Linked DNA regions of Homo sapiens: region 2 is linked to region 1. Evidence: fine-mapped expression QTL. A gene starts in region 1. The other region holds a variant in brackets. All regions are shown on one strand. Distances are between the middles of the regions.

Evidence for each region.
Region 2: its variant is fine-mapped to the expression of SLX4 in whole blood (TOPMed, PIP 0.95).

Annotation. Positions count from the first base shown.
Region 1 is chr16:3,609,303-3,614,682 of GRCh38, reverse strand. It overlaps SLX4 (SLX4 structure-specific endonuclease subunit), which reads left to right and starts at 3,077. Exons shown (of 15, transcript NM_032444.4): 1 at 3,077-3,123; 2 at 5,117-5,380. It also overlaps a transcript of DNASE1 not described here. RefSeq lists an enhancer at 2,760-2,829 and a silencer at 2,870-3,219.
Region 2 is chr16:3,633,934-3,639,313 of GRCh38, reverse strand. It overlaps a transcript of DNASE1 not described here. Among named protein-coding and RNA genes, the nearest start is that of DNASE1, 18 kb to the left of the region's middle. RefSeq lists an enhancer at 1,655-1,704. The variant G/A (reference allele first, on the strand shown) is at 2,535.

The DNA.
Region 1 (5,380 bases):
CATGCCTCTCACAGGCAAGTCAGCCTCCCCCCTTTATCTAACTCTCACACACCAAGCCAGTATTTCTCCTGCCCTAAATCATCCATGGCCAGGTACCAAGCAACTAGAGACCACCCAAAGGCAAAGCGTGATGGAATTATTTAAATTATCCAATCCTAAAATGTTTACTCCGCCCTGACTTGCTATTTCTGAGGAACCCCATAAAGGTTCTGGCCTAGACTTTCTCCTTGTTCCTATTTCTTCCTCCTAACCAAAAGCTGATGTCTCCCTTGTGGCTCTGAACGTGGTGGCACGCCTCCTTTTCTTGAGAAATGTAAGTAAATTATTTCAGGCCAGGCGCGGTGGCTCACACCAGTAATCCCAGCCCTTTGGGAGGTCCAGGCAGGAAGATCGCCCGCCTGATGTCAGGAGTTTGAGACCAGCCTGGCCAACATGGTGAAACCCCGTCTCTACTAGAAATACAAAAAATTACGCCGGGCGCGGTGGCTCACACCTGTAATCCCAGCACTCTGGGAGGCCAAGGCGGGCAGATCACGAGGTCAGGAAATCGAGACCATCCTGGCTAATATGGTGAAACCCCGTCTCTACTAAAAATACAAAAAATTAGCCAGGTGTGGTGGCGGGCGCCTGTAGTCCCAGGTATTCGGGAGACTGCGGCAGGAGAATGGCGTGAACCCGGGAAGCAGAGCTTGCAGTGAGCCGAGATCACACCACTGCATTCCAGCCTGGGCAACAGAGCGAGATTTTGTCCAAAAAAAAAAAAAAAAAAAAAAATTAGCCAGGCGCGGTTGCGGGCGCCTGTAATCCCAGCTACTCCGGAGGCTGAGGCAGGAGAATCGCTTGAACCAGGGAAGTGGAGGTTGCACACACCACTGCGCTCCAGCCTGGGCAACAAGAGCCAAACTCCGTCGAAAACGAAGCAAGGAAGGGAAGGAAGGAAAGAGAAATTATTTCAACAGCACTGGCCTCTCCATGTCGTCACTCAGTCTCCTCTATAAATTCAAGTCCCAAGACACCCTGCCCTACCCTTGCCTCTGGGCTGCTTATCATTCTTGTTCTGTCTTCTTTATCCAGTTGGAAACCATATTACAAACTAACTTAGATTTCCAAGCCAGAGAGCAAGTAAACACCTCCTAAATCCTTCATCAAGGAAAACCTCTTGGAAGGTTTTGAAGCTCAACATTCAGAATCAAATGTAGTCTTACCCAGTAATTCCACTCCTAGAACACAAAAACTTGTGTTATGAACACGAATGTTCATAGCAGCATTATTTCTAACAGCCAAAAAGTAAAAACATCCATATGCCCATCACCTGATACATGGATAAACAAAACATGGTCCATCCAAACACGTGATTATGCAGCCATGAAAAGGCATGCAGTACTGATTCATCTACATGGATGAAATCTTGAAAACATGCTTAATAAAAGCCCAGCAGAAAAAGCCAAGTATCACATGATCCCATTTACATAAAATGTACTGAATACGCAAAACCACAGAGACAGAAAGCCGATAAGTGATTGCCAGGGGATGGGGTCGGGGGAATTGCGGAGTGACTACGAATGGGTACGGCAGGTTCGATTTGGGGTTTTAAAACGTTCTGGAATTAGCGACGATGGCTGCAAATCCTGTGAACGTACTGGAAACCACTGAATGTACACTTCTAGTGTGCATTTTATGATACTGTATCTTTTAAAAAACATATTGTCTGCCCTGCAAACTGATTCCTTTACACCTCTCCTGTGTTCATTATTTCAGTGACTGGAGGCACACTACTCTCAGATGTTAAGGCCAGAAACCGGCAAATCGTTAACAACTGCGTCTTGACTATGCTCCATATTTCTCCATTCTTTTCGCTCCACCTCCTAATTCGGGCCGCTCTCACTTTTCATCTAGATTATGTAATAGCCTCCTAATGGGTGTCCTTGCCTCATCTGTTCTCACTGTAATTAGGCCTTTAAAAACAAAATCTTACGCCGGGCGTGGTGGCTCACGCCTGTAATCTCAGCGCTTTGGGAGGCCGAGGCGGGAGGATCTCTTGCGGCCAGGGCTCGAGACCAGCCTGGGCAACATAGTGAGACTCCCCCCCCCGCCCCCACCGCCCGTCTCTACTTAAAAAAAAAAAAAAAAAAAGCCGTGAGCGGTGGCTCACGCCTGTAATCCCACCACTTTGGGAGGCCGAGGCGGGCGGATCACCTGAGGTCAGGAGTTGGAGACCAGCCTGGGCAACAGAGTGAAACCTAGTCTCTACTAAAAACACAAAAATTAGCTGGGCGTGGTGACTGGCGCCTGTAATCCCAGCTACTTGGGAAGGTGAGGCACAAGAACCGCTCGAACCCGGGAGACAGAGGTTGCAGTGAGCCGAGATCGCGCCACTGCACCCCAGCCTGGGCAACAAGAGCAAAACCCCGTCTCAAAAAACAAACAACAAAAAACCTTCAATGGCTCCCGACGACCCCAAGTTGAAGCTCAAACCCTTAATACGATGTGTAAAGTCCCTCAAATACCAAGCCATGGCAAACCTCTGCTACCTTTCCCCCAGGCCCTGGCTGGCTTCACCCTAGCCCTGCGGAAGAGCTCGGGCATCCCCTCCAGGCACCTGAAGCGCGGCAGAATCCCCTCTTCACGTAGCTAACCCTCCCCGACCTCCAGGCCTCGACTCTCACGCCACCCCACCTGAGAGGAAGCTTCTCGGGCCCCCAGGCCAGATTTGGTGCCTCTCCCGGTCCCCCTCACACCGTCCACTCTCCGCTCCACAGGCAGGTATGCCCAGAGGGGGCCGCCGTTGTATCCGCGAACATTTCCTGAGCCAGCTGGGGAGGAACCAGACTTTATCTCACAGCTGCCACAGTGCCTTAAACTCGCCCTAACTCTTTCTCAAAAACTAACAGACTCCACCTGAAGCAAGCGCCGCTTCCGCCTCGCCCCGCCTCCTGCCGACCGGAAGCGCTGGCCGCCGCGGGCCCGCGCCCGGCGCCGCAGAGGAAGACCGGAAGCGAGGCTGCCGCACCACCGCGCGCGCCCGCTCTGCGCCTGCGCGCAGGCAATGCTCCGCGGGGGCGCGGGCGGCGCATGCGCAGGCGCGCGAGTCTCCGTTAAGAAGGTGCCGCGGCGGCGCCGGAGGTAGGAGGAGCCGGGCTGTGGGGCTGGGAGTCGGCACCCGGGAGGCGGAGGTCCTGTCATTTCGGGCCGTTCTCTCTTTCCTAAGGGAGAAGAGCCTTTCTCGCCCGTCTCCCTCGCTGGCTCCGTGGCCTCGGCAGGCCCGCAGCCCCGACGGAGAGGCAGGAGCCGCACTCGGGTGGAGAGGGGCCGGGGCCCGCCTGGAGGGAGGAGGGTGGCGGATCCGGATCCCCACGGTGGTCTCCGTCCGGGCCAGTCCGGGGATCGGGGTTCTCCGTCTGACTTTAGAGCCGTTAGAGTCTTTGGCAGCCCTTTTCCCAGACGGGGAACCCCTCAGCCCCTTTCCGTAGGTCGCCGGGTTGGGGGAAGCGGGAGGGTCCGCCCCTTACCGATCCATTCATTCATCCCTCGCCTGCTGTGAGCCGTGGGCTGCGGTAGGTACGAAGCAAGGAGGCACAAGTCCCCTTCCCTCTGGAAACCTGCAGGCTTGCAGGATCCGTTATGTCATTCAGTAAATCTTGACTGGGCACCTATAGGAGGAGATAGACTGTTGTGAGGTTCATATCAACAGAGATGCGGAGATCAACACAGTTGTGGAGGTGGAATTTGTTCCAGCCGCTCCCCGCATCCAACAGGATAAAATTCACTTTGCCTAGCCTGACCTTCCAGGCCCTTGTGAGCCAATCCTTTCCTCTCCCCGCAGCGTTTTCTCCTACACCTTTCTCTCTACTCCCATTATACCGAACTCTTTGCAATTCATGAATTCAACAAGTAGTTGTGGAGCACTTATTTCAAGTCAGGCACCAGATCAGCCAAAGAGGTTGCAAAGTAATAGATGGATCTCTACCCTCCTGAAGTGTTGAGCTTAATGGGGGACAGATAATAAGCCGATGAATAAAAACACAAGAGCGGATAGTTTCGAACCACACTTCCTGGGTTTGATCCCAGCCCTGCCACTGTGAAAGCTGTTCCTGAACTGGCTTTAGGCCAGTTCCTCATTCTGCTTGCGCGTGTTTCCTTGCCGTAAAGACAGGATGACAAGAGATTCCACCATATAGGCTTCTTGTAAGGATTAAACGAGTTTGACTTGGAAAGCAATTGGAACAGTGCTTGGCACACAGTAAGCATTCGATAGATATTACCTGTTTCATATGATGATAACCTATGACAGATGCCATTGTGAAAACAGTGGGCGATGATAGGGATTAACGGGGATGGAGACGGTCCATAAAGGATTAGAGGACACTTCTCTAAGGGGAAGACACAGAAGAGAATGCGCCAGCCATACAAAGTAGATTCTAGGTAGGAGTATTTTCAGCTCTGGAAAACAAAATGATTAATTAGATTCCTTGGACAGTGGAGATTGCATTATTGTATTTGAAAGGAATAACTTTCTGCCATTGGGTCATTCAGTTTTGATTTTTGAACCCCACTTAGCTGTGTGCCAAAGTAAACAACCATGCTCACGAGGCCCAGCCTTTGCACACAGGCGACATTCCAGTCATCCAGGTTTGGAGAGCCTTGCTGGGTTGAGAAGATAAGTAAAAGTGACCTTTTCTCTCCTGAGTGTTCATGAGAATATAATGTCTCTTTCTGTCTCTTATGTTGCAGTATTTACAGAAAGAGCCTCTTTAACAGCCAGGGGTCTTAGATCAGTGTAGGAGATAGTTTTCCTAGATTTGGGGATCATCCTGTTTCTGTGGTGACTGCCTTTTATGGGGTTTGCTCCCTAAATTTCAGTTAAGAAAACACTCTCCCAAGATGCACATATTTTAATACCTGTGGAAGAACAACATGCTTTGACAGGTTTCTAGGTCCTTTTGTTGTGATGTCTGATAGGACGGTTAGACCATGTTAACCAGGCTGGACTGAGTATTTGACAGTATTGTTACTCCGAAGACTTTTCCCTCACCCCACATGCCCTTGTCCCTCCCTGGAAGAACTGGCATAAAATGACAATGTCTGATTACACTTACATGCTTTTGGTTTTCCACAGATGTGTAATTAAGTGAACCATATATGTTTCATCATCATGGAGATCTTGGAGAATTATCTGAGCACCAGGTTCATATGTATTCGATCTCAGAGGCATCTATTGGACAACAAAACACTCTTTCAGTTGTGAACTTTATTTATTTATTATTATTATTTTTTGAGACAGAGTTTTGCTCTTGTTGCCCAGGTTAGAGTGCAGTGGCACGATCTCGGCTCACTGCAATCTCCGCCTCCCAGGTTCAAGCGATTCTCTTGCCTCTGCCTC
Region 2 (5,380 bases), 25 kb before region 1:
ATGTCCCACATACCAGCTCATGTCACAGACAGCTGTAAGCAAAGCACAAAGAACCAAGAAATGCCCTTTCCTCTCAACGCTTTCCACTGACAAAGACCAGCATGGGGCAAGGGAGAAATGTTCCAGTATCACAAGTGGCAATGAAGGGTGGATTTAGAGTTGAGACGCAATAAACTGATAACTGCTATAACAGACATGCAAGAAAGAGAGGAAAATATGACCTATAACCATACACAGTCAATAGAAACTGACCTAGAAACGACAGAGATAAAGGAACTAGCAGACAAGGACAATAGTTCGGCATATATTTAAGAAGGTAAAGGGAAACATGAGCATGATGAGAACACGGAAGATATAGAAAGATCCAAATGGAACTTCCAGAGACAGTAAAAACAAAACCTGAAATGAAAAGATGCACTGGATGGGATTAACACCAAATAAACACTGAAAGAGAAAAGATCCATGAATTTGAAGACATAGCAATTGAAACTACTCAAATAAGGCAGAGAGAAAAAATTATTGGACACTATCAAGCTGTCTAATGTGCACATAATTGGAAGTCCTAGAAGAAAAACAAAGAGGAGACAGAAATATTTGAAGAAATAAGCAAAATTTCCCAAATATGATGAAAACTGTCAATTCACACATCCAAGAAAGTCAATAAAACCCAAACAGAGGCCGGGCGTGGTGGCTCACGCCTGTAATCCCAGCACTTTGGGAGGCCGAGGCAGGCGGATCACGAGGTCAGGAGAACAAGACCATCCTGGCTAACACGGTGAAACACCGTCTCTACTAAAAAATACAAAAAATTAGCTGAGTGTGGTGGCGGGCGCCTGTAGTCCCAGCTACTCGGGAGGCTGAGGCAGGAGAATGGCGTGAACCCTGGAGGCGGAGCTTGCAGTGAGCCAAGATTGCGCCACTGTACTCCAGCCTGGGCAATGGAGCGAGACTCCGCCTCAAAAAAAAGAAAAACCCAAACAAAATAAACCTGAAGAAGACTGCACCAAGACACATCATAATCAAGTTGTAGAAAACCAGTGTTAAATTAAAAAGTCTTAAAAGCAGTTAAGCTAAAAAGCATATTATGTACTGATAAATATAGGTAAGAATGACATGATACTTCTGCTGTAAGCGGAAAGACAAAGAAGTAACATCTTTAAAGTACTGGGAAAAACACACACACACACACACACACACACACACACACACTCACAAAAACTGGTCAACTGGAATTATTTTTATCTACCAAAAATATCATTAAAAAATGAAGGCAAAGGACTTTCATTCTTCAGTGAGGCATGTCAGGAGCTTAGAAGTTGTCACTACCATCCTTACAAGAAACAACACTGAACTGGCAAACAACCCCTTTTAGCTGCATCAGAGAACTGAAGTTACAGGGCAAATGACTGCCCCCGACACAGGAGACATGTCAACAGGGTGAACTGGAGCTTACCTGAGCAGGAGCCCAGGAGTGGAAACGAGGGTAGGAAAATTTACACAGCAATTCATGAACTGCTGGAGACTCAATGTGGACTTTACCTCCATGAGCCCTACCAGACTCTCACAGTCAAGATCAGAGAAAGATCCTCTCATACTTCTGGCGGGGGAGGGGGAAAGCAGCCATGTGGACTATGTCTAGAGCTTCCTGTTCTTAACAAGGCCTGTCCTCAAAGGAAACTATTTTACAAGAGCCTAACTTAATTAGGTTTTATAAGATCCTCATCAGCCTAAGGGAAAGGTTGACCCAACTTAAGCACCCCTAAGCCTTCCACAGGCAGGAAAGAAAGGGCCTAACTCCAGCCCCCTCTCCCTTCCTGTTTCACCTAAGGAGGCAAAAACCCCAAACTGAGAAGTGCTGGTAAAAGTCACAGGCCAGGGGCACAGGCTCACAAAAAGACTGAGACCTAGTCACAGGACTTAGGACACTTCCCCTCCTTCCCACCACATAAATAGGGCTCCTATATAATAACAAGAGAATAGAACGGAAAAACCTGCATATCTCAGACTTTATTTAAGAAGTCTCTACGGAAACCCAAGGAAGGAAAAACAGACCCAGGAGGAAATTTTAGTTCTGACACCTATAGTTACAGCAAACAGCAGACAGAGCCTAACGCCTAGCCAGATAAACTAAAAAACTCACACCAAAGGCTGATTTTCCTCAGTTACTTCCTTTTCTTTTCTTTTTTTTTTGAGATGGAGTCTCATTCTGTCACCCAGGCAGGAGTGCACTGGCTCAATCTCTACTGACTGCAACCTCTGCCTCCTGGGTTCAAGCGATTCTCCTGCCTCAGCCTCCCAAGTAGCTGGGATTACAGGCGCCTGCCACCATGCCCAGCTAACTTTTGTATTTTTAGTAGAGACAGGCTTTCGCCATGTTGATCAGGCTGGTCTCGAACTCCTGACCTCAAGTGATCAGCCTGCGTTGGCCTCCCGAAGTGCTGGGATTACAGGCATGAGCCACTGTGCCTGGCCTGTTTTTTTTTCTTTTTTTCCCCAGACAGAGTCTCACTCTGTTGCCCAGGCTGGAGTACTGT[G/A]GCATGATCTTGGCTCACTGCAACCTGCACCTCCCGGGTTCAAGCAATTCTCGTGCCTCAGCCTCCTGAGTAGCTGGGATTACGGGCGTGTGCCACCATGCCCAGTTAGTTTTTCTATTTTTAGTAGAGACGGGGTCTCTACGTTGCCCAGGCTGGTCTTGAACTCCTGGGCTCAAGCGATCCTCCCCGCTCAGCCTCCCAAAGTGTTGGGATTACAGGCGTGAGCCACCATGCCCGGCCTCCTCAGTTCCTTTTAACAAGTACATCAAGTCCGGTTTTCAACAAAAAAATTACAAGGCATACTACGATTAAAAAGCAGACTTTGAAGAGATATAGCAAGCATCAAACCCAGACTCAGAAATAGCAGAGATGTTAGAATTATCACAGCTAACAACTCTGATTTAAAACAACTATGATTAATATGCTAAGGGCTCTAATGGAAAAAGTAGATGATATGCTAAAACAGATGGGTAATTTCAGCAGAGATAAAGACTCAAAGAATCAAAAGGAAATGCTAGAAACAAAAAAAACTAAGAAAAGTGAAGAATGCCTTTGATGGATTCATCGATTAGATACAGTCAAAGGAAAGAATCAATGAGCTTGAAAAAAAATGTCAGTAGCAACTTCCCAAACTGAAACTCAGAGAGAAAAGAATGAACAAGATGGAACAGAATATCCAAGAACTGTGGGACAATTAGAAAGGCATAAATATGCATAATGGGAATCCAGAAGATGATGACAGGCAGAAATGAGCAGAAAAAGTATCTGAAACAATAATGAACTGAGAATTTTCCAAAACTGATGACAGATGCCAAACACAGTTCTGGGGAGCTCACAGAATACCAGGTAGGATAAATAGCAAAAAACAAAAACAGAACAAAACTACATGTAAGCATACAATAAACTACAGAAAATCAAAGACAAAGAGAAAATCTTGAGAGAAGCCACAGGGAAATAAATTCCTTTCCTATAAAGGAGTAAGGATAAGAATTACATCACACTTCTTTGAGAAATTATTCAAGGGAAAACAGTAGAGGGAATATTTATAGTGTTGTAAGGAAAAAAAAAAAACCCTATTAACCTAAAAATCTGTATCCAGTAAAATTACCCTTCAAAAGAGAAGAGACTTTCTCAGAAGAATAAAAATTAACAGAATCTGTCATCAGTAGACCTGCCTTGCAAAAAATATTAAGAAGTGTTTGAGAAAGAAGGAAAATAATACAGGTCAGAAATAAAGACCTATAAAGGAAGAGCATTAGAGAATAAATAAGTGAAGGCAAAATATTTTACTTTTCTTACTTTTTTTTTTTTTTTTTTTTTTTGAGACAGAGTCTGGCTCTGTCACCCAGGCTGGGGTGCAATGGTGCGATCTTGGCTCACTGCAACCTCTGCCTCCCAGGTTCAAGCAATTCTCCTGCCTCAGCCTCCTGAGTAGCTGGGATTATAGGCACACGCCACCACGCACAGCTAATTTTTTTATTTTTAGTAGAGATGGGGTTTCACCATGTTGGCCAGGCTGGTCTTGAACTCCTGACCTCAAGCGATCCATCTGCCTCAGCCTCCCAAAGTGCTGGGATTACAGGCAAAAGCCACCACGCCCGGTCTACTTTTCTTATTTTTAACTTATTTTTAACAGTTTGTTCAAGGTAATAACAGCAACAGCTAGGCATGGTGGTGCATGCCTCTAGACCCAGTTACTCAAGAGGCTGAGGCAGGATAGCTTTAGTCCAGGAGTTCTGGGCTATTTGGACTGAGTGTCTGCACTAAGTTTGGCATCAAAATGGTGACCTCCCCTCCTTAAGGACCACCAGGTTGCCTAAGGAGGGGTGAATAAGCCCAGGTCAGAAATGAAGCAGGTCAAAACTCCTGTACTGATCAGTCATGGGATTGCACTTGTGAATAGCCACTGCACTCTAGCCTGGGCCACATAGTAACACTCTGACTCTATTATTAATATTTTTAAAAGCTGGGTACAATGGCTCACACCTGTTAATCCCAACACTTTGGGAGGCTGAGGCGGGAGGACTTCTTAAGACCAGGAGTTCAAGATCAGCCTGGGCAACATAGCGAGACCCTGTCTCTACTAGAAATTAAAAAAAAAAATTATCTAGGCATGGTGGTGCACACCTGTCGTCTCAGCTACTTGAGGGGCTGAAGCAGGAGGATCATTTGAGCCCTGGAGTTCAAGGGTGTGGTGTGCTATGATCGCACCACTATATTCCAGCCTGGACGACAGACCAAGACCCTGTCTCGGCCAGGCACAGTGGCTCATGCCTGTAATCCCAGCACTTTGGGAGGCCGAGGTGGGCAGATCACGAGGTCAGGAGTTCGAGACCAGCCTGGCTAATACAGTGAAACCCCATCTCTACTAAAACTACAAAAAATGAGCCGGGCATGGTGGCGGGCACCTGTAGTCCCAGCTACTCAGGAGGCTGAGGCAGGAGAATGGTGCAAACCTGGGAGGTGGAGCTTCCAGTGAGCCCAGATTGCGCCACTGCACTCCAGCCTGGGTGACAGAGCGAAACTCTGTCTCAAAAAACAAACAAACAAACAAAAAAACCCTGTCTCGACAACAAAAACAAAAACAAACCCGCAACAATGTATTCAATGATTGGGTCAATAATCATCCTTACTGTCCCTTATGATATTGCTGTCAATAATTTCACTTATGGCCAGGTGCGGTGGTTCACGCCTGTAATCCCAGCACTTTGGGAGGCCGAGACGGGCGGATCACGAGGTCAGGAGATCGAGACCATCCTGGCCAACATGGTGAAACCCCGCCTCTACTAAAAATACAAAAAAACTTAGCCAGGCGTGGTGGTGGGCACCTGTAGCCCCAGCTACTT